Regions from separate parts of the Homo sapiens genome. Here regions 1 and 3 are each linked to region 2. Evidence: fine-mapped expression QTL. A gene starts in region 2. Each other region holds a variant in brackets. All regions are shown on one strand. Distances are from middle to middle.

What was found. PIP is the estimated chance that this variant, and not a neighbour inherited with it, causes the effect.
Region 1: its variant is fine-mapped to the expression of PCOLCE2 in whole blood (TOPMed, PIP above 0.99). The same link has a PIP of 0.9 or more in monocytes.
Region 3: its variant is fine-mapped to the expression of PCOLCE2 in left ventricle (GTEx, PIP 0.96).

Annotation. Positions count from the first base shown.
Region 1 is chr3:142,847,572-142,855,755 of GRCh38, reverse strand. It overlaps PCOLCE2 (procollagen C-endopeptidase enhancer 2), which reads left to right. Exons shown (of 9, transcript NM_013363.4): 3 at 7,284-7,539. Among named protein-coding and RNA genes, the nearest start is that of PCOLCE2, 37 kb to the left of the region's middle. The variant C/T (reference allele first, on the strand shown) is at 4,792.
Region 2 is chr3:142,885,706-142,893,889 of GRCh38, reverse strand. It overlaps PCOLCE2 (procollagen C-endopeptidase enhancer 2), which reads left to right and starts at 4,807. Exons shown (of 9, transcript NM_013363.4): 1 at 4,807-5,076; 2 at 6,113-6,221. The coding sequence starts at 4,994. LOC124909443 (a long non-coding RNA gene) reads right to left here and starts at 5,626. Exons shown (of 2, transcript XR_007096122.1): 1 at 5,431-5,626; 2 at 3,123-4,299. RefSeq lists a silencer at 4,815-4,864.
Region 3 is chr3:142,813,407-142,821,590 of GRCh38, reverse strand. It overlaps PCOLCE2 (procollagen C-endopeptidase enhancer 2), which reads left to right. Exons shown (of 9, transcript NM_013363.4): 8 at 546-713; 9 at 3,126-3,717. The coding sequence ends at 3,256. Among named protein-coding and RNA genes, the nearest start is that of PCOLCE2, 72 kb to the left of the region's middle. The variant G/C (reference allele first, on the strand shown) is at 3,362.

The DNA of each region.
Region 1 (8,184 bases), 38 kb after region 2:
AGAGAACTCCAAAAGGATTGCACTGGGTGTCTTATGGCTAGGCCTGGAGGTAATGGGTGCATCACTTTCATCTACATTCCATTGACCAGGACCCAGACTCATGGCCCCAACTTAACTGCAAGAGAGGCTGGGAAATGTCGACTCCATGTGTGACCTGAGAAGAAACAAGGTTTGGGAGCATCTCCTCAGCCTCTGCCACAGTCAGGTCATGGAAAAACACAGCAAGGTGGAAGTCTGGTGACCTGAGTTCTGCCATTGTCTTTCTGGGTGGCCTTAGGCAAGTCATCATAACCGCTGTCAGCCATTTCTTCCTCCCCGTAAGGATCTTAATAATACTTGCCCTGTACTTGTGAGTTTACATTTTTATATAAAAGTATGTGCTAGTAATAGGAGTCATGGCCTGCACTATTATTTTAAGATTATAAGGATCGCAGTCATTTATTCAATGAATATTTTCTGAGTACTCATAGTAGCCAAAGCATTGGACAAACTGTAGACCCACAGACCAACTGTTCTCTGTAGCTTACATTCTGATAGTGAGACAGATGATAAATAATCTGTGAAGAAATAAGAGGGCTGTGTGATCTAAGTGACCAGGGGTGCTCAGGATAGGCTTCTCTGAAACAGTGACTCTTGAGCTGACCTAGATGATGAGGTGGAGTGAGACCCGTGTATATCAGGGAGAAGGCTGTGCCAGGCAGAGGACCAGGCTGTGCAAAGGCCCTTAGGTGGGAACCAGCTCGGAGGGCTCCTTGAACAGAAAAGTGGCATGACAGCCAAGTTGTTGCTTGAAGGAGAAAGATGAGAGATAAGGGGATATATCATGCAGTGTCTTAACCTCTCTGTGCCTCAGTTTCTTCATCTGTAAACTATAAAGTTGGGCCAATAATAATATCAACTTCATAGGGTTGCTGTAAGGGATTAAATGAAATGATACGTATATAGTGCATAGAAAAATACCTGGCACCTGATGTTCACTAAGTGTGTGAACTATAATTAAGGTGAAGATTTTATTCTAAGTGCAGTGGGAAAGTTTTGGGTGGTTTTCGGGGGTTATCTCCACTGGTGTCTTCAGGCTGGGCCCAAGGTGGATGGGAGTTTCCACGCCCCTTCTAGACATCCAGGGGTAAAGTTTTTTTAGTGAAATCCCCAAAAACAAAAGAAAATGTTCAAAACATCTCGTTATTTCTACAATCAAAATATGTTTTATTTTTTAAACATGTATAAGATTTACCTTTACAAGAGTAGTATTGAAATATACCCAGAATATAGATGAATAAGATCTTGTAAGCTTCTGATTTATCCCCCTCTAGAAAGACTGCCAAATATTTTTACATAATTTGTCTATAGATCTTTCTGGACTACCTTTGGAGGTCCATGGGAGAGGTGACACTGAGTGGTCACCTCGAGCTTTACGTAGATCAACTGTGCCTCGAGCTTTACGTAGATCAACTGTGGTCTGCATTTTAGAATGCACGTTCCCAAAGGTTTGTTTGTGGAAGAGGGAAATCGTAGAAGATTAGAATGATGGCTTAAAAAAAAATCACGTGCTGCAAAAACAGTTCTTTTTGATCAAAGTAGTAAATGATGTGTTTAGGGAGGAAAAGCTGCAGACACAAAGGAGCATTCCCATTTCTGCAGAAATGCACTCCTCCACACAGAAGAAGCTGGCCTCCTGTTTGCATTTTGCTCATAGTATCCTAAAAATGCAAACCATCAGCTTAAAATGCAGTTCCTCTGTCCTCTGGCAGGAGCCCCGGCATCGAGAGCTTTGGCACGTTTGCTTGTGACAGTGAGGACATCCCAGGAGCTGTGGGGTGAGTTGAGGTCACTGTGGAAGCTCTACGCTTTGGCCCACACGGGACTTTGCTGTTGATAGGAAAAAACACAAACGTCGAATTGTTTTTCTGCAGGCAGATAATGAATCCCCAAATCAATATAATCTCACAAAACAGTAGCTTCATCTATTTGCCACCAAAAAAGCACCTTGAGTTTCTGCATTAAGTGTTAGCATTTACAGGAGATTTGAAATATAAAGTTTCCAAAAAGATATGCATCTGCTTTTTGCAAAGAATGGCTTAGAAAAGAGAGTGGCCTTTTGGAGCTCTGCTGCCAGGCAAGGTAGGAAATATTAGAATGAAAAAGGTGGAGCCAGCAGTAGGTATATTGTCTGTGATTTGTGCAAGGAGGCCGGTGATTCATTGAGTACCTAATGGATTATTCATTTAACAAATATTTTTGATGTTAAGCTTTAACTTGGGGCCATGCCAGATCCTGGGGATGCAACAGTGAACAAGGCAGGAAGGATCCTTGCCCCCTCGAGGTTGAGCTTTATAACATGCAGTGAGTGGGCTGAGCCATCCCATGCTCACAGACCTGAGGGGAGCACTGCTAATTGGACAGAGCCCACCTTCGGGTTTGGGGGTGTTTAGGCATGTCTCCAGGAGGGAGTGACCTTGAAACTGAGACCCTAAGCATGAGTGAGAGAAGGGCAGAAGTGGGAACATGTTCCAGGTAGAAGGAATAGCTTGTGAAGGTCCTATGTATTTTTATTTTTCCTTCTTCTCTTCTTCCTCAGCCAGAAAATTCAAGGATGCCCAGGTTGTGGAGTGATATGTAAACATTATCCCATTTTCCCTTTTTTTTTTTTTTTTAAACAGGGTCTCTCTCTATTCTCCAGGCTAGAGTACAGTGTGATCATGGCTCATTGGAGCTTTGATGTCCCAGGCTCAAGTAATCCTCACACGTCAGCCTCCTAAGTAGCTGGGACTACAGGCATGCACCACCACATCCAGCTAATTTTTAAAATTTTTTGTAGAGACACGATCTCCCTATGTTGCCCAGGCTGGTCTTTAACTCCTGGACTCAAGCAATCCTCCTGCCTCGGCCTCCCAAAGTATTAAGATTACAAGCATGAGCCTGGCACCATTTTTGTTAATTTTTAAAACAACACAAAAAGTCACTGTGCATTTTGCATGGTTACATATATATAATATATATTAAAATATATATTATATACACATATACATAAATACTTATGTGTGTATATGTATATACACACATACATAAATATATATAAATACACACACACACACACACACACACACATTTTGATCAGCATGGAAGGAAACCCACTAAATTTGTAACAGTGGTTGCTTCTGAGGAAGGAGGAGGAAATGGGGCCTGGGATGAAGACAAAGGAAATCTCATTTTTATCTGAAATGTTTTATTTACTTCATTAAAGGAGACTTTAAAAATCTATTAACAAAATGTTAACAAAAGTCAATTTCGTGGTTGGTATCCAGGTGTTATATTATTCTGTGTATCTTTCTGTATTTTTTATTTTTTTATTTTTTTTCTATTCTTAACAAAGAAAATTCAAGGATACAGACTAGATTCTCCAAGTGGAAAGGCCATCTTCGGAGAATATGCTCTCTAAAGTCCTTTATAATGACAATCAGGAGCTCTTATCAAAGCTTGCATCAGAGGGCATCAGACAATCTTGATCACTCATATAAAAAATGAAGAACGGATGTTGTGTCATACTGAAAAGGCTCACAGCAGTATGCTTCTCATTTGCAATAGAATTTCTCTCTGGCCTTCAGTGCAAGATGACATTTGTCTCTGGTTATAGGAGACTTACACTGGTACAGATCACCTCTGCATCCTTCTTTCAAAAGAAGCTTTGTCGGGGTTGTTCGGGTCAGCATGTGTTCAAAATTGCAATGATGTAACCCAGTTTCTATTGCTGATCATATTTGTGTCTCATTCTCAAATTTTCATTGCCATGGGAACAGGTACAAAACTTTTGGGAACAAATGATTTATTTTATTGGGAATGAGCATCCAAGTCCTGTAGTTAATTTCAACACCTCTCTACAGGAGAGAGTCAACAGAATTGTCTACGTAGTGTCAGAGAACCAAGAACCTGCCAATGAAACATGATTATACCTCCCTATTCCTCTCCTTGATGAAATAATCTAAAAGCCTCCTGGACAGTCTTCCTCGCTTCTTGCAAATTTTAACTCCTGGTTCACTGTCACTGTCTTCAACACTCTTCCTTGTCCTAATCAACTGTAATTTCAATATCTATATGGGTGATCTTCTCAGGTCTTTAACCTCTTCTCCGCCAAATAACTTATCCTCCATAGTTCCTCAGCCTCCCACTTCCACTGTTATTTTGTCCTTACTCCACCACAGTCTTGGTTGTTACTGTCCTCACCCCACAGCGTCCTGATTTCCATCCTAACCCAGTTTGGATTCCACAGCACATCATCATGGTCACTCCCTTGCCTATGTCTTCAACTCTCTTGTCCTTCTCTCCTGCCATATCCTCCCTTGGCAAACCTCACCACTCTCCCCTACTGCTTATATCCAACTCTCCACCTGCCCTGTACCTTTGCCCACGGAGCTGAATGTGGCTGGGGAAGAAGACCACGAACAAACAAAAACAAATATCGCCACCATGCAGAGAGGTCTTAATTTTAATTCATTTACTTCAAGTGGACCCCAGCAGTCCTGGTACTCCTGCTGCATTTCATTAATCCATTTCCTCACTTTCTCTTCTGTTATCAGATTCCCAGTAGTGCCTCTCTCTTCCACATTTGCTGCTGATGACCTTGTTTTCTATTTTACTAAGAAAAGCAATCCAGAAAAAAAATTCTATATATGCTTTCACCACCTCATTTACTGACCTACCTACATCTGTCTTCCCTTCTGTCATTGGGCAAAACTGTCCCTGCTCCTACTAAGGCCAACTCCACCAGCTGTTCCTTCTGTAGATCAGATCCCC[C/T]TTTGCCTGCTCAAGGACATCTGTTAAGCAATCCTCCCTCTCTCTTGCTTCATCAGTTTTGCCCTCTCTACAGAATCCTTCCCATCAGCATGCAAACATGCCTTAGGAAACACCCATTGCAAAAACTCTGCTTAGACCCCATATCCCCTTCCTTACCCCCATATTATTCTGTTCATCTTCACAGCAAAACTCCTTGAAAAGCTTGTTTATATTTATTGTCACCATTTCCTCTCACCCCATTTTCTCATGATCCTTTTATCCAGTTTTCTCCCCATGGTGCCACCAGAACAGCTTTGTCAGCATTACCAGTGACTTCTGGTTGCTAAACTTCTGTGTTGCTAAATCCACTGGTCTTTCTCAGCAGCAGCACTTAACTCAGTTGCCCATTCATTCCTCCTTGACATACTCTCTTCGCCTGGCTTCCAGACGCCACACACTTTGGTTGCCTCCTACTTGTTGACTCAGTCTCTATTGTGGTTTGACCTCTTCACAGACTTGATGACATTGGAGTGTTCCAGGCCTCTATACTTAGACCTCTTCCTTTTTCTATCCACATTCACTCTGGGAGTGACTTCATCAAGTTTCGTAGCTTTGAATTACCCTCTATACATTTATACAAATAGTCACTATTCATGCAGGAAAAAAACAAATTAGTTTGAGATTCTTTTCATGGCTAGGACTTTTTCGGTGATTCATAGAGAGCCTGCTTATATTTAAGATTACAGATGTGGCATCATATTTTGATAACTTTCTGATTATTGTACAAATAGAGGTTGTGTGCAAAACAAAAAACAAAGCAAAAGACAGGAAGTTTTACAACAGACATCTTGGTGATAATGTTTAAAATTTAAATTGTTCTTTCTGTTATTAGCTTCTTAAGCTGTTCTAAGTTCTTTGGAACTCTGATATTCACACCACTGAGACAAGCTTCTAGGAATTAGAATGCAACGATGGCAAATCCAAACATGTCCCTTTTGGGAACTACGCCATTATAATTTCTACGATGAAGTGTAGATGTGTTTGACACAAAAAGCAAATAGCACTGAAAACACTTCATCTTACCATAGGAAAATAAAACGTATGGCACTGTACTTACCAACATGGGGAAGCCGTATTAATGTCAAAGCATCTATTGACCCTTGAGTCTGAAATAGTTAATTAAGATGAATATAAACCAACCACTTTTGATTGTGTGTGTTTGATTTTTTTAATCACTGAGTTTTGTTATATGTAAGTTTTTACAGAATGGAATTCTCCACTATTCAGTGGAGACCTCATCTGATTAAAGGAGTAAAACAATTATGATCAAGACTTTATGACTGAACAACTTGAATGAAGAAATTAAAAGGTGGTATGAACTGGGAAAGAAATGGGGCTTTGGTAACCTGAGAATCCTACCAAATGCTTTTATAGCCATTTTTTCTACCTACTCAGGGAATAAGGAAGGAACCATCATTAAGAATTTTATGGGGAAATTATGATGAATAAAATATTATGATAAAATGAAAGCTTATCTTTTTCTTCATTAGCGCATTGTGTCTCAAGGCTTCCTGACATATAAAGTCTTCACCTGGAAAACAAATGAGCAAAAAACTTAGTGACATTCAGAAGAGATGATTCAGCAATTACTCAGTTCATTTAGTCAGTATCGGTAGTTCATCTGGATGTTTCAGGACCCAAAATGAATTATCTGTAAATTAACTACACAATTGCCAAATAAATCCTCTATTTTGAACTTCATAGAAACATTCTATACACAGGCATTGAATGCGTCCTACTGTATTATTTGTAAGAAATGATTTTTTTTTTTTTGAGGTGGAGTCTCGCTCTGTCACCCAGGCTGGAGTGCAGTGGCGCGATCTCGGCTCACTGCAAGCTCCGCCTCCCGGGTTCACGCCATTCTCCTGCCTCAGCCTCCCGAGTAGCTGGGACTACAGGCGCCCCCCACCACACCCGGCTAATCTTTTGTATTTTTAGTAGAGACGGGGTTTCACTGTGTTAGCCAGGATGGTCTCGATCTCCTGACCTTGTGATCCGCCCACCTCGGCCTCCCAAAGTGCTGGGATTACAGATGTGAGCCACTGTGCCTGGCCAAGAAATGATATTTTTAAATGTTTCTTTGCTAAGCAATATCTCTAGGTATTAGAATATGCAAATATATGCTAAGGTCCAATCAGGACTGGTATTCATTCTAAGCAATGACTCATCTATTAATAATACTGACCTAATATTTTGCAGCTTTGTTGAGGTAAGTTCTTAAGGAATAAGATTGTGAATCCTGGAGAATTGCAGAATTTGTCAAAAGAAAATAAGTACTTAAATTTTTTAGGAATGCAATATGCTAGAAAACTTCCCTTGGGTTAGTTCAGATATGAGAGAGGAAAAAGCATTATCTTGGATATTATACTTTACACACTTAAGTAAGTGACTAGATGTCAAAGCCTCAGATATTGTTTTCATGACAGTTTTCTAATTGGCGCTTTTCTTGGCAGGTTCCCGAAGGAAAAGTAGTCGTTCTCAATTTCCGATTCATAGACCTCGAGAGTGACAACCTGTGCCGCTATGACTTTGTGGATGTGTACAATGGCCATGCCAATGGCCAGCGCATTGGCCGCTTCTGTGGCACTTTCCGGCCTGGAGCCCTTGTGTCCAGTGGCAACAAGATGATGGTGCAGATGATTTCTGATGCCAACACAGCTGGCAATGGCTTCATGGCCATGTTCTCCGCTGCTGAACCAAACGAAAGAGGTACTGTTTCCACATAATGGCAATAACAACAGTAATGTTGGTTCACTGTTCTTGGCACTTGATGTTTATTTACTCCTTTAAAGCTTAAGAGTGGTTCTCAAAGAGCTAGTGAATGCCATCAAACCATGATGAGACCAATACAAAAAATCAGCCTTTTAATTTAAGTCCACATGCATTCTTGTAAATCAAGTATAGAAATTCATAGAGTAAAAATGTGGAGCTTACATACATAAGCACACATGCAAATATGCAAACACACCCCTTCACCACTCCATAGTCCATTCTCCAGAAATAGCCATGGCCAGTGGTTCCCATACCTTTCTATGTGTGCTTGCTTTTATTTGAGTACTTATACAATAGCTTTTAAAAAATAAAAGTGGAGCCCAGGCATGGTGGCTCATGCCTGTAATCCCAACACTGGGGGACCAAGGGCAGGTGGATCTCTTGAGCTCAGAAATTCAAGACCAGCCTGGGCAAAATGGTGAAACCCCATCTCTACAAAAAATACAAAAATTATCTGGGTGTGGTGGCACACACCTGTTGTCCCAGCTACTTGGGAGGCTGAGGTAGGAGAATCACCTGAGCCCAGGGAGGTCACTGCTGCAGTGACCGTGATCATGCCACTGTGCTGCAGCCTGGGTGTTG
Region 2 (8,184 bases):
TCACGAGTTTGGGACCAGCCTGGCCAACATGGTGAAACCCCATCTCTACTGAAAATTCAAAAATTAGCTGGGCGTGGTGGCAGGTGCCTGTAATCCCAGCTACTCGGGAGGCTGAGGCAGGAGAATCATTTGAACCTGGGAGGCGGAGGTTGCAGTGAGCTGAGATTGTGCCATTGCACTCCAGCCTGGGTGACAGAGTGAGACTTCCTCTCAAGAAAAAAAAAATTAGTCTGGTATGGTGGCACATGCCTGTAGTCCCAGCTACTCAGGAGGCTGAGGTGGGAGGATTGCTTGAGCCCAGGAGGTCCCAGCTGCAGCGAGCCATGATCACACCAGTGCACTCCAGCCTGGGCGATAGAGCAAGATCCTGTCTTAAAAGAAAAAAAAATTTTGGATTATAAATCTCAGAATCTTCACCTGTAAAATGATGATACTTGTTCTTACCCCGTAAGTTTGTTTAGAGAATTATACAAAATATTGTTTGTAAAGCACTTAGCACAGTTCCAGGTGTATAATAAATGCTCAGTAAAAGTCTGAGATGATGATGATAATGACGATTCATTATGGAGAGACTCCACTAAACAAAGTTTCATTCCACACCAAGAAGCAGCAGCTGATTTCCTTGTGTTCAGCTTGGCCCGCTTTCATGTGCTTGCCTTTGACTCAAACAAAATGCCTGACCCAGTCCAAGGTGGACAGGTGAGTGGAACTGGTTTCATTCAACACATCCTATTAACTCTGCAACTTCATATATCAAGACCTCCTTGGGGCTGCTTTCCTCAGCAAAGGGATGCAAGGAGACAGGCTAATTGAACTTTGTAGATCCTTATCATGGACATTAATCACACTTGTGCCTGCCCATTTTGTTTTAGTAGCCTTTTAATATTTGGAGATATTTCTATATTATGTAACCTCATCTTCTAATAGTGCTGAATTCCCAGCCTCCCTTGTGGCTGAGACACTGCAAGTCATGTGACATGGACACTACCAATCATATAGGCTTGCATGAGAGTTTGATCAAGAGATCACCGTGAGCAAAGAGGTTCTGTGATTCTCTTATTCTGTAGGAGGCAATAGGCTGTCTGGCCTTTGGGGCAGGAGTGTGGTAAGGTTGAATTTCCCAGGGCAGAAATGTATCTGAAGTGCTCACAACAGCGGTGACTGCATTAAGTTCAAGTACCTGCATTTAGTGCTTAGTCTTGGTGGCAATAATAGCAGTAGATTTCTCACTGGCCATTTCTGAGGCGAGGTTTTGGCTCTTATTCCAGGAAAATGAGCTTTGAGACTGTTTCTATGATTCTTTTGATGATAATGTGAACTTTCTGCTCTGCTTGAAATTCTGAGTGGACTCAGTTGTTTGTAGCTAAGAAACCTGACCAGTACAATTCCTAATATCTTATTCTTGGCAGAGAGGTGTGTTGAGGTGGGGCAGGGGAAAGAGGAAGGTCTACGTTTGTTCCTAATGTGTGTTTACAGACATCAAAAAACACTGAATTTTTTTTTTTTTTAGATGGAATCCCACTCTGTCGCCCAGGGTGGAGTGCAGTGCCGTGATCTCGGCTCGCTGCAACCTCTGCCTCCTGGGTTCAAGCGATTCTTGTGTCTCAGCCTCCCGAGTAGCTGGGATTACAGGCGCCCATCACCACGCCCAATTAACGTTTGTATTTTTGGTAGAGACAAGGTTTCACCATGTTGGCCAGGTTGATCTTGAACTCCTGGGCTCAAGTGACCTGCCCACCTCTGCCTCCCAAAGTGCTGGGATTACAGGCCTGAGCCACCGTGCCCAGTGTGAACTAACTTATGAACATTCCGGATTTTTTACAAGATGAGTACCGCACTATGGAATAAATGTGCAATGGATTTACACGACATTTTCAGACGTTTACAAGGTTGATGAGTGAATCAGAGATTAGCTGACAATGTTGACATATTGGGCCCAGCTAGATACTAGCATTGTGTAGCAAGGAATGTTTGAGTGGGGCCTAATTTTATAAGTGGTCAGTTCATTGGTGAATATTTTCATATTCCCATGATGCTGATTCTCTGTGCAACCTGGTAACAGCAGAGGCTGGATAATAAGGATCAGTTCACCCACCACTCCACTTTTTGTTTTAAAGAATCTACCCACAGGGCTTTTGTTCTTTTTCTCTCTCCACTTTTCTACTGCCTGTGGGGGTAGCTCCTTGTCCATTATACTAATTCTGTTATCACACAAGTCCAGAAACTGGTCTCACAGAGATGGACCTTACATATACCTTCAAAGTGCACTTGAGTCTTGATATGGTTTGGCTGTGTCTCCACCCAAATCTCACCTTGAATTGTAATAATCCCCAGGTGTCAAGGGTGGGACCAGGTGGAGGTAATTGAATCGTGGGAATGGTTTCCCCCATGCTGTTCTCCTGGTGGTGAGTGAATGCTCATGAGAGCTGATGGTTTTGTAAGGGGCTTTTCCCCTTCTCCTATCACCCTGTGAGGAGGTGCCTTCTGCCATGATTATAAGTTTCCTGAGGACTCCCCAGCCATGTGAAACTGTGAGTCAATTAAACTTCTTTTCTTTATAAATTACCCAGTCTCGGGTATTTCTTCATAGCGGCGTGAGAACAAACTAATAAAAGTCTCTCAATTTTAACACATCAACTTCTCAGGACATTTAAGGTTTATAATTTTGGTCAGAACTGTAGTTCCAAGTCAAATATGTGTTTTTAAGAGCCAATAATATGGGTTTTAGTAAATTCTAAAATCACATGGTAAAATCAATGTCTTATGAGTGTCAACAACAGAATGATTGGTGTTAAAATCCTAACTCTTTAGTGAGCATATGAACACAGTCATCAATCTATAAATTAAGAAATGGCTGTGTATTTTAGTTCAAATAGTTTCCTATTTAGGCACATTTAATACTTTGTTATTTATTTTAAATTTTGAAAACTTAGCTTAGTCCTGAATGAAGTATTTTCTGGTTTACGAGGACTGCAAATCATTACCAGAAAGTGAATTGAGCAATATTTCCCTTTATAATTTAAAACTATGACTTTCAAATAAACAATTATCTAAAAACACTTATGCTATTAGATAGCATATTCTTGAAATGCGTGCAAAATCAACAACCATTTATTCTCCTCTTCCCTGTTTTAAAGACATTTTTATTGGGTTGAGAGTGTTTCAGGATATAAAGCAGTTTGCCAAATTCTGTCACCCTTTTTTTTAATGTCATAAAGGGTGTGGTGCCTGTAGAGAAGTTTTGAAAGTTGTACTTTATGATGTTTTTGCCTTCACTTTTTAAAAAAATGGTAAGATAATCTAAGTCCTGTCCGTATATTCTGGTTCCTAGTATAGGCTTCAGGGTGCACTCACTATGAAAAGTCAGAATATTTCCTGTAGCCAGTTTTACTTACTTCCTTGCCAGGAGTGTTTAGGTTCTTTTTTTTTTTTTTTTCTTTTTTGAGATGGAGTCTCACTCTGTCGCCCGGGGCTGGAGTGCAATGGCGTGATCTCGGCTCACTGCAACCTCCGCCTCCCGGGTTCACGCGATACTTCTGCCTCAGCTTCCCGAGTACCCGGGATTACAGACGCACACCGCAACACCTGGCTAATTTTTTGTATTTTTAGTCGAGGCGGGGTTTCACCATCTTGGCCAGACTGGTTTCGAACTCCTGACCTCGTGATCCGCCCGCCTCGGCCTCCAAAAGTGCTGGGATTACAGGCGTGGGCCATCGCGCCCACCCGTGTTTAGATTCTTAACAGCTCATTATTAGAAATAAAGTCTCGATAAGAACTACTTTAATACTTAATTTTCTTGCTTAGAAAGGTGAAAACAATTTAGAAGGAACAACGTGAGGCATCAAAGTTAAGCTGTATCTCCCATAGCTGGTGATTATTAAAAATCTCTATGAATCTAGTCTGTTCCTGTCATTCTTTTATTAATCCCTGGTTATTGGGAAGCTCTTAACAAAATAAATGTTTAAAATTATATTTCTGTAATTAAGTAAAAGAGAGTATTGATTCCACAAGGCTAGAATTGTTCGTCTAAGAAAAACGAATTCTCCGTAAATTTTAACCCGTTAATACCACAGAAAGATGCTGTTGGAAAGGTCTAAGAACAGAGAGATGCAAGCAGAGAAACACCATTTTCAGAACATGACATGGGATGGTGAGATTTGCTGATTTGGTTCCGTCTTCATTATCTGACATTTAATGACAGTTCACACAGAAATCGCTCGCCTGAAAACCCGTGTTTAAATCCCGGCACAGAGACTGTCTTCCTTGTCATTGTCATACCAGTAAAAAAAAGAAAAGTATCTAGAGAGAGAGAGAGGAGAATAAGCACAGAAGTTAAAATACAATAAAATCCCTTTTCCCTTTCTTTCCTTGGATCTGGGTTTTGAAGGAGACAAAGAAGGACCCCCAGGCTTTCCAGCAGCCAGCAAGCGCTATTACTTTTTATTTAAAAGCAACTGGGAAAAACATTCCCCAAAGCAAAACCAGAAGCCCTCCCTGAGAATCGTCTCTGGGCGTCGGGGCCCGGGCCGCTGGGGTGCCACTCCGCAAGGGGTTCCTCTTCTCCCCGGGGTCCCTGAGGGCTGGACGAGAGAGGACCCGTCGGTCCCGGGGTGCCGGGAGGAGACGTTCGCCCGCCCCACGAGAGGGGGCGGCTCTGGCCTCGGAGCCGCCCCTCCTGCCGCCGGAGAACAAACGGGATATTCAGCAGTGGCCTGTGGCTGCCAGAGCAGCTCCTCAGGGGAAACTAAGCGTCGAGTCAGACGGCACCATAATCGCCTTTAAAAGTGCCTCCGCCCTGCCGGCCGCGTATCCCCCGGCTACCTGGGCCGCCCCGCGGCGGTGCGCGCGTGAGAGGGAGCGCGCGGGCAGCCGAGCGCCGGTGTGAGCCAGCGCTGCTGCCAGTGTGAGCGGCGGTGTGAGCGCGGTGGGTGCGGAGGGGCGTGTGTGCCGGCGCGCGCGCCGTGGGGTGCAAACCCCGAGCGTCTACGCTGCCATGAGGGGCGCGAACGCCTGGGCGCCACTCTGCCTGCTGCTGGCTGCCGCCACCCAGCTCTCGCGGCAGCAGTCCCCAGAGAGGTAACGCGACCCCTGCCCGGGCTCCCTTTCTCTCCTTTCCCTTCCTCCACCCCTGCAGCCTCGCCTGCTGCTTTACTCAACCCGCTTCGGCGCGCCTGGGTGACCCAGCGCTCGACCCTGCGCTCCCGCGCGGTGCAGGCGTCCGCCACCCTCGGGTAGGCTAAGCCCGGGACTTCGGGACCCATCCTTGCTCGCGGGGCTCCCTCCTGGGTCCCCAGCCCGGCCTGCCGGATGGCCCTGCAGCTGGCTTGGCCACCACGTGGCGGGGCTTAATCTGACTTGTGTCTCCCCTCTCCTCGTGTCTATGGGGCCAGAGGGAAGCACTGGGGCCCAAATATGTGGATTTTGGTTTACCGCTGTTTTTTTTCCTTCCCCGAGAGGCTTTGCCCAGAGACGTAAACTAGGGAACAACCCTAGCGGCGCGGCGCCTAGGGAGCCGCTCCGGAAAGTTAACTCTTCGCCAACCTCTGGAAGGCCCCAGGAGCTGGGCTGTGGGACCTGCCCGGTGGCCAACTTTGGCATCACCTCTTCAGCCTCCATCAACATCAGCCTCCCTTTCGATGGGAAGCTCTGCCAATGGCGAGTGATTTTCAGAAAGGGGGAGGAGAACTGGGCATCTCTCCAAATATGGGAACGACAAACTTTTTTTATATTAACCAATTGCTTGCCTGTCTTTCTTTAAAACCATGCTTCTCATTCAGCCTGGCTCTTACCTTCTCTCCCACTCCCCCAGTTAAATTGATGTATTTACCATTTTCCTACAAGACTTTGCCACAATGCCGAGGACTTGATTATACATATATATAATCTTGTGTTATTATGATGGAGACAGATGGCGCTGGACTGAATGCTTTGTCAGGCTATAATTTAAATATTCTAGGAGCTAGCAAATTTTCAGATCCCTTATATGGTGCAAGCATTGATTAATCAACATTAACTTTTATTTATATTAATAGGCTACACCTTTCTGAAGGTAACATCAGATTGTTAGACCATGTTTCAAATTACATTATCTTTTCTTCTTTTATGTTCCCAGACCTGTTTTCACATGTGGTGGCATTCTTACTGGAGAGTCTGGATTTATTGGCAGTGAAGGTTTTCCTGGAGTGTACCCTCCAAATAGCAAATGTACTTGGAAAATCACAGTAAGCATTTTTTAAAAAGGTATTCTCCTGGAAGTGGGTGTTGGCAACAGTGTGAGGCTGCTGCCTTTTTCCTCTGGTGTTAGGATTTGAGTAAGAGGCAAATGCCTGAAATAGTGAAATGTTGGATTTACCCCAACTATTGGGAAGATTTTTATTAATATAATAGATCTAGTCGTGTCCTGCATTAGTGATTACAAAGGGCACAAGATAATGCTTGAAGGAATAAATTCTCAGAGCAGATGTGTTTCTGAAAGCCCAGTGTGACTCAGTTGAGTTTTATAGATTCATAATTAAAGCTGTTTTCAGTCAAAGGCCTGTTGTAATGACCTTCATAAGTTTTTTGTTGCTCGTGCCTTCATAAATTCCCAGTGGGAAATGGAAGATCAAAGATAGTGCTTTGACTACTCTATGCTCATTAGGAAAGGAAAAAGAAAAAAAATAAAAAAAGCCCACTTAATGTTCCTGGGTTGAAACCACCTCTAAAGGCAGTCTAAGAATAGAGAATGGGGGGGTGGGAATCTAAATAGCAGCCAAGGGCCAATAAAAAGTCCATGCTGATTAGTAATAACATAGATTATGCTGAGTCAAGATAAGCTGGATTTAGAGACAGCCATATATTTTTTAACTGATTTAGAGTCAACTAGAGTGAGTCATCTTTCCAGTCAGCATAGCATTGACTGTTACCTTCTTCACTTTTTCGTTGTTGGGAAGTTGTTTAGTAATTGAATACGTTGGTTCACTGAGAGCTTCTTTCAGTCAGATTGTGCCACTGGAGGACTTAGATTTTTTAAAAAGTAGCCCCCACTGAATGTGTAAACTAGCAGTTACTGTGTGCCAGGCATTTACCATGCCAAGTAGTTAGCAAGTATAATCACCCAGAATCCTCAAAACAACTGTATGAGAAAGTATCTATTATCATCCCTATTTTATAGATGGGGAAGCTGAGGCCTGAAACAATTATAGAAATTGACTTGATCAGACAGTCGGGAAGCCCAACTTTATGTAAAAGTAAAACCTACTTTGCAATAAGGTATTCCCACTGAGGTCATTTTGCAGGCAGATATGAGAGGTCCCCTTCCATAATATAAAACTCAGCTCTTACATGCCTTGACGGCCTCTTGTAAAATGCCAACCATGTCACAAACTGGTACAGATTTCATTATGTTATTATAGCACATGTGGCCAGGAAAGAAGTCATAGAAAATAAGTTTGAAATACTATTAACATAAATGTCAAATAAGTCTCTGAAACAAAAATAAAAGCAGCTTGATTTTCATGTCGTGATTGTGTTTTAAATGTAATTAAATGGCCATAAGTTTTAAACGACCCTAGAAAATCAATGGCTCAGAGGCGTCATGTGCCCAAGTAGAAATTCATGGTTGGCCATGTGTTCTGAGTATTGCGGACAGGTTGATGTGACTTTACACTTTGACTGGGGTTGGGGGGCACGTCCAGTGAAAGCTTTCCTTGATAAAGGAACGGTTTGCCTCAGGAGAGGCATGATTTCCTGTGTGGGAGTGGGGAAGTTAAATGGATGCTCCATCTGGATGTCCTGTGAAGGGAAAGCCTGTGAGCTCAGCAGTCACTTCCCTGGATTCAAATTCCAGTTTCACCGCCATAAACTGTGTGTCCAGGATCTACCTCCTTTAAACCTTAGGATTACTGTGAAGACAAAATGAGATAGTGTAAAATGCTTCAACTCAGTGCCTGAGTGGGAAGAAGCTTGATTTGTCTGAAGAACAAATTAAGGAGGTTGGAGTGGCTGGAATGGAATGAGCAAGGGGACAGTGGGAAGAGAAGCGAAGAAGGTAAACAGGACTCTGTAGGCCACGGTGGAGAGTTTGAATTTTGTTTTGAGTAGGAGTCACTGGAAGATCTTAAGCAGAGGAATGAGCTTATCTGGTGTCTGCGTGGAAGATGAACTGTAGGGAGTTAAGAGTAGAGGCAGAGAGACCAATTAGGA
Region 3 (8,184 bases), 72 kb after region 2:
ATAATTAGACAGAGGTGAGGACCCAGGGAATGAACAAAAGTTCAGGAAGAAAGGACAGCTACAGAGAAGGGTGAGGAGAGACACAGAAAGGTGGCTACACACCCACACCGACACAAAGACTCACATCTTAGTGGCCCAAACCCCCATCGCGCAATCTTTTAGCGTGGTACTGCCTCTAAAGATACAAGATCTTTTTGAGTATTCACAGGTAGAGCCTCATAAGCCAGACTATCCCCTATGTGACAATCAAGCCACAAGTTGGATAAAACGTTTTAAAGAGTTTCAACCTTGGCAATGGACCGCAGTGTGGCAAGTATTTAGGCTTCTCTTCTAGTTATCAATCCCCAACAACCAGCGTAACATCACAGCTCCAACCTGAATTTTGGTGACAAATGTACAGAAGCAAATGTGAAACCTCTATGAGGGCCTTTTCTTTAACATTAAAATGTTTCGTATCTGAAACTTAGAAGAATGTAAACTTGTTTTTCAGTTCTGCTTGCATTTGCCTTCACTGTCACATCACTTCAAAATGTTTTCTTCTGCAGTATTAGCCGGCACTGTTATCACAACCATCACTCGCGATGGGAGTTTGCACGCCACAGTCTCGATCATCAACATCTACAAAGAGGGAAATTTGGCGATTCAGCAGGCGGGCAAGAACATGAGTGCCAGGCTGACTGTCGTCTGCAAGCAGTGCCCTCTCCTCAGAAGAGGTGAGTAGGGAGAAAACTGGGTGTCTCTGAGCAAGCCATGGATTTTCCATGCCATGGTTGGTCTAGGGAAGTAAAATCAGGGCTAATATGTTGCCCACTTCTTGCAGAGCAGGAAGGCCTTTGGAGTCAGGCAGAATTGGGCTCTCATCCAAGTCCTTGTAACTTGTGGCAGAAGAAGGGGTAGTGGACATGATGAACAAGTGAAAGAAGCGTTTGAAGTTGAGTCAATAGGCAACAGACACACAGAGCAGTGCAGGGTGGAGAGATTTTAGACTATTGCACTTAAGATGCCAGTACTGTCTAGGTTTAAAGAAAAATATCCAGCAGCCAACAGGAAATGCAGACCCGAAGTTCAGAAGAGGGAGGTATATCCGGGCTAGAATCAAGATCTGGGAATCATTTGCAGAGATAGGACTATTAAGTCCATGGATGGGAGTGAGTTTATTGAAAGAAATTACGAAAAACGGAAAGTTACTCCAGAGCTAGAGGCACATGACTTTTTAAGAATATGTATTTAACAACTTATAAAAGTAACATATGTTTCATGGTTTTTAAAAAGTTGAAATAAGTAGGTAAGAGTATGTTTAAAAGTGAAACCCTTTTCCTTTCCTTAGAAGTACTCTAAAAAGTTCCTTCCAGCCAGACACAGTAGCTCATGCCTGTAATCCCAGCACTTTGGGAGGCCGAGGTGGGAGGATTGCTTGAGCCCAGAAGTTCGAGATCAGGCTGGGTGATGTAGTGAGACCCTATTTCTATAAAAAAAAAAAAAATTTAAGTTCCTTCCAGAAAGTTTCTATCCACATAAAGCATGGGCATATACACTTATGGAATCATATCACACACAAGTTCTGCAATTTTTCCCCTACATAAGCTCTAACATCTTTCCACACATACACACAGAGAGAGAGAGAGAGAAAGAGAGAGAAAGATACAGAATATCCACTTCAAGAAAGCTTTACTGTCCCAGCACTTTAGGAGGCTGAGATGGGAGGATTGCTTCAGCCTGAGTTCGAGACCAGCCTGGGCAACATAGTGAGACCTCTGCTCTACTAAAAATAAAAAAATTTAGCCGGGTGTGGTGGTGCGCACCTGTGGTCCCAGCTACTCGTGAGGCTGAAGCAAGAGGATGCCTTGAACCTAAGAGGTCGAGTCTGCAGTGAGTCATGATCACACTGCTGCACTCCAGCCTGGGTGGCAGAGCAAGACTGTCTAAAAAAAGAAAAAAATTTAAAAATAAAGCAAGCTTTACTGTGAATTCAGATTGTTCAGAAAAGTCAGGAGGCTAGTAGCCTCATGTTGAGTCTCTGGAGAGAATCACAAAGGCTCTGTAAAAGAGAAACATTTCTTTCCAGAACTGCCAGGAGCAGCAGATACTGCACCTCAAGATTCTATAAGGTCTCATAATGCTGCTAGCACTTCAGCCTTGAGGCAGCATTACCTGCCCAGACTCTCAGGCTCTCACAGACCACTGTGATGACAAGGTCCACCCACACAGGAAAATGCAAGAGAAAAAGGACACATTTTCTCTATGACACACCAGGGGAAAGGGGAACTAAAGGAGGAATTAACCCATACCTTTTTTTCTGATTTATTTCTGAGGTAATATAAATATTCAGAGTTACCCAACACCTCAGGCCCCAGTCTAGGCCTAACTTAGCCAGTCACACCAATGTATAAAAACATAGTATAACCAATATAAGTACTCTTGACACCGATGTTTTGCAAGAAACTGTACAAATGCAAGTAGTATATGATCCATCTATGCCCTCAAGAAGCTTGCGTAGCATACATGTTTGAGATGTTGATTAAAGTTCAAGACAACAGCAACATAAGAGAGTGGATCATTGGTTGCCAAATGCCAGGAAAATCCAGACACATGATGGGACTGAGAAGCCATCTGAGGATGGCCCATCATGGAGCCCTGGAGGCCCCTCGAGGAAGGAGAGTCTTTCACGTTAACGCGGTGCATTCTTCATAGCAGGCATTTGAAACCACAACAGACCTACAGCACTGCAGAGCGGGACATGGCTGATCTAACCACTCAGTCCAGCTTCCTGGTGTTAGCGTAGCTGAAATACCTTACTAGTTGAATTTGGCTTTTTGCCGATGAGAGTCTTAAAACAGATTTTATCATCCAGGCACAATGGCGTGTGCCTGTAGTCCCAGCTACTTTGGAGTCTGAGGCAGGAGAATCGCTTAAGTTCAGTAGTTTAAGACCAGCCTGGGGAACATGGCAAGACCCCCATCTCTAAAAAGCAAAAACAAGAAACCCAGATTTTATCGTGGATGGAATACATGTATAATCTTACCATTTGCAGAAGAGAACATTTATCTAGAGGTAACTTACAGTCTAAGTTGTTTCACACATGATACATAGAGAAAAAGATTAATTTCTGTATTCTCTTTCTTTAGGTCTAAATTACATTATTATGGGCCAAGTAGGTGAAGATGGGCGAGGCAAAATCATGCCAAACAGCTTTATCATGATGTTCAAGACCAAGAATCAGAAGCTCCTGGATGCCTTAAAAAATAAGCAATGTTAACAGTGAACTGTGTCCATTTAAGCTGTATTCTGCCATTGCCTTTGAAAGATCTATGTTCTCTCAGTAGAAAAAAAAATACTTATAAAATTACATATTCTGAAAGAG[G/C]ATTCCGAAAGATGGGACTGGTTGACTCTTCACATGATGGAGGTATGAGGCCTCCGAGATAGCTGAGGGAAGTTCTTTGCCTGCTGTCAGAGGAGCAGCTATCTGATTGGAAACCTGCCGACTTAGTGCGGTGATAGGAAGCTAAAAGTGTCAAGCGTTGACAGCTTGGAAGCGTTTATTTATACATCTCTGTAAAAGGATATTTTAGAATTGAGTTGTGTGAAGATGTCAAAAAAAGATTTTAGAAGTGCAATATTTATAGTGTTATTTGTTTCACCTTCAAGCCTTTGCCCTGAGGTGTTACAATCTTGTCTTGCGTTTTCTAAATCAATGCTTAATAAAATATTTTTAAAGGATTACAGAACAACCACTAAACTTCTTTTTATAGATAGTGGGACATTGTAGAAGGAATATTCCCTTTTAGCAATAAGAATAGTGTGATTTATGCATAAGATTGCCTTTGTATCAATTTACACTTTGCTAAAAGAGCATTCCAAGAATTTCAGGGACTAAATGGATCCAGTAATGTCAATAGACTATAATTCTTCTCTCTGCAGAAACAGAGAATGTTAGTGCTAGAATAACATCTCTCAGGGATCTAGTCCACACTGTTTCATTTTGTAATTGAAACGGAAGCTCAGGTATGTTTAGTGACTTGCCAGAGCACATGTCTCCTAAGAGACAAAACAATCAAGCTAAAGAGTCCTAATTCCAAACCCTTTGCCCTCACTGCCACTAGAAGAGCCTTCCCTACCCCCAGAGGAAAGCCCTCTTATCCTGATTTGAAGAGTGAAGTACTAAATATTAGTACTTAGGCTAGTATTTACTAGCCTATATAATTGGTCATTTTACAGAACTTGAAATTAGAAGTGAGCTTGACACTGCTGCCCTGTTTATCCCCAGTTAACTGGATCAGGCTGTATCAGCTAAGAGCCTTTGAGAAATCTATTTTCACTCATTAGTGGAAGAACAGCAAAAGGACCTTCATTCACATAGAGCTGCTTAAGGCACAACTATATGAGTGCAGCAACCAGCCCTGTAGGAGGTTACCAGCCAGGGGCTGTGGGAGAGCGGATAACCATCCCTATCCAAAGAAGGCTGAAAGAACATTAGGGATGAACAAAGACGTGGGTCACAAACTCTTCCACGGTAGAAGCAAAGTTTTGGAAATAAGGGAAAATACTCTTTTAGATGAAAACAATAATTCCCAGCCCTAGGATGACCAGACATTTAAAGGGTGGCAAAATAGAAGTTCAGAAGGAACTCTGTTCCCTCTGTTACGGCAGCTGGGTGAGCCTAAGGAAACGACAAAATTGGGCTGACAGGCAGGTCAGAAACTGCTCCTATACTTTCCCACTGAGGAGCCGTCAGCAGGAAGTAGATGAACTAGAAGACCCTGATGACAGTGGGTGACTGGCTTCCCTGGCCAGTGTCAGCTTTTAGAAAGTTCTCTTAGCCAGCTGAACTTCGCAGACCAGCTGCGCCCAGCACAGGATGTAACTGTGGACTCCTCATTGATTCCAGCCTTCTCAAAGCAAGTTGCTTCCCTTTAAGAATACATGTTCCGGGACTTAGGAGGGAATCCTAAAGATTTCAGTATTTCTTCTTTCTGAATAGAATCTCCTATTGGTGAATTACAAGCAGCATGCTGGCGGGTATCAAGCTTCTGCATGACCAGCGGAAAGACTTCTTCAGGTGAGTGGGGGCTTGAGTCACAGTGGGGTAAAAACTGAGAAGAGTAATCTAAACTATTCATACTATTGACATCTCTGACACAGTATTTTACAACTGCTTAGGGGATTCACGGTTAAAAGTGTGTGGCACTGGTTTGTCTTTTACTTCAGTTATTCAAAACATAGAGATAAGATGAATCGTGAAGCTGCTCTTTCTGGAATAACAACCACTTTGTAATTTCTTTCCTTTTTAAACAATCATTTTTCTATGGTTTGACTGTATCCTCCAAATTATGTGTTGGAAAGTAAATCCTCAATGCAACAGTGTTGAGAGGTGGGCTCTTTTATGAGGCAGAGCCCTCACGAATGGATTAATGCCATTATCATGGGAGTGAGTGAGTTATCGTGAGAATGGGTCCTTGGTAAAAGGATGAATTTGGCCCCCTGCGTCCCCACTCCATCCTTGTCTTTCTCTTTTGGGCATGCACATGTGTTGATGTGTTCATGTGCTCTCTTGCGTTTCCACCTTCTGCCATGGGATGATGCTGTGAGAAGGCCGTCACCAGATGTGGGCCCTTGACTTTGGACTTCCCAGCCTCCAGAACTGTAAGAAATAAATATCTGTTCTTTATGAATTACCCAGTCTCAGATATTCTGTTATAGCAGCACAGAACGGACTAAGACACCTTTATTTTGACTGAGGTTTAGTTTCCTTAGTTATAATTTGAGGGAGTTAGACTACATAACTTCTGGGATCCCATACTATTTTCTCTTTTAGGAATTGTTTATTTTTCAAGAATAGTTGATAAGGTTTTGTTTTTGTTTTTAAGTATTTATACTTGGGGAATCAAATACACATGAAGAATGAATAGGTGACCATACTAACATATCACAAAACATTTCAAAATTATAAATAAATCTCACTGTTTCAGAGCATCTTGCTAGCTTGATTTTCATCCTTTGAATTCCTGTAAATGAACATTTAAGATTTTTCCCAAGTTCCCAAGTCTTAAATTCTGTAATTTACTTCCAAGTTAACCTTAATTGGAAGACATTTACCTTCTTTTCTTTCATGTATTAATAGACTACTGCTACCAGGCTCCCATTTACTTCTGGACTATTTAAATGGTATCAACTAATGACAAAAAAAACTCCCTTAAAGAAAAGCCCTGTAATTAAACAGGCACTAATGAGAAAGTTCTAACGTGAGTTAAGTAATATTAATCAGAAACACCTTTTGCTTGAGTTCATGGATTCAAGCAAACAAATTTATATTTTTTATATAAATGGAAACAAAAAATTTGCAATTAAATTCAATTAGCAAGCAAATGTTTTTTAAAAAGATTTGACCTAAGTATTCTAAAGACCTCGTATTGAGAGAGAGAAAGATAAAAATATTAACTTAGGACTTTGATAATTTAAGTATTTACATTAATTTTTCTAGGGTAATATAATAAAATAATAATATAAATAGAGCATAAATAATATAAATAGAGCATCAACATTTAAAACCAGCAGAGGAAAAAAAAGAAGAAATTAAAGAAAGTGAAACCAGGAAAAATACAACAAAATAAGGTAAAAATACAAACATATCAATAATTTCAGTAAACACCTAAACTAAGTCCTGAAAGTTATACGTCAAAATGGTCAGACTGGCTTAGAAAAAGAAATACAGCTATGTGCTATTTGAAAGAGACATCTAAAACATGAGGACACGGAAAAGTTGAGAGGAAAGGGATAGAAAAAGATAAATACAGTATACCAGGCAAACATTAACCAAAATAAAAATGGTATGGTTTTATTAATACCAGAAAAAAAATACTTCAAGGCATTACTCAAGATGAAGAGAGTTACAAGGAGATATAACAATTCTAAATTTGCACACAGCTAATAACATCCTTCAAAATATATAACTAAATCTGATATAGTATAAATAGAAATGGACAAGTTTACCATCATAAGGGGAGGTTTTAACATGTTTCTCTCAGTATTGACAGATTTAAAAGAGAAAACATTAAAAATATAGAAGTGTTGAACCGCACAATTAGCTAGATTTACCTAACACACATATGTAGAACAGAACCAAGGGCACATTATTTTGAGCTCGTATGGAACAATTTCAGAACTTGCCATGCACCATGAAGCAAATTCCAACAAATTTCAAACAACTGGTATCGAACAGCCTTCTCTAACAGTAAATGACTAGAAATTAATAACAAAAAGTAAACAACAAAAAACAAGAAAAAAATTGGAAATTAAGAAATGTACTTTCAACTCATGATAAAAAGGAAACCATAATGGAAAACAAAATATTAAAAACTGAACAATAGAAAAACTGCATTTTAAAATGTGTGAAATGCAGCTTAAATAACACTTTAAAATTTATAATCTTACATGTTTACATTATAAAAGAAAGGATGGAAATTATTAATTTGTGAATGATACAAATTGGGAACTTAGTAAAAGGAAAACACCATAAACTTTTAAAAGGTAGGATAAAATAGCATAGAGCAGAAATTGAATAAAATTGTCATCTTAAATAATAGAAAAAAGGAAAGCCAAATGTTGGTTCTTTAAAATGACTAATATAATTGACAAAACTCTGACCAAATTAAGAAAAGCTAATTTTTGTATTTTTAGTAGAGATGGGGTTTTGCCATGTTGTTCAGGCTGATCTTGAACTCCTGATCTCAGGTGATCCATCTGCCTTGGCCTCCCAAAGTGCTGGGATTATAGGCGTGAGCCACAGCACTGGGCCACGAATAGCCTCTTTTTGACAAAGGCTCTCTGGATGTACAAGTGTGGGATTGCCCATGGATGCATGGAATCGGGTGTTCTGGGTGAGTAGCTCTGGGATATACATAAAAATTTGTTCTGAAGTATTCTAAAGTTATTATTAAAAATCCTGGTTTTGATTTTTTTGTCATTTGCTTCTCCCTTTTAAAAACAAAATCAACAATTGAGTTTAAAAGGCTAAAATTTGATTAGATATAAATGAAACATCTTTGCCTGAATGATGTCCCTGTAGCATTCTAATACTAAGATTGGGTTAGATTTCAACGAGATGAAGCTTTTAAGTATAGAAACCTATGAAGAAAATTTACAAGCTGAAAGTAAGACTTCATATATCTGATTAATTCATCTCACAAA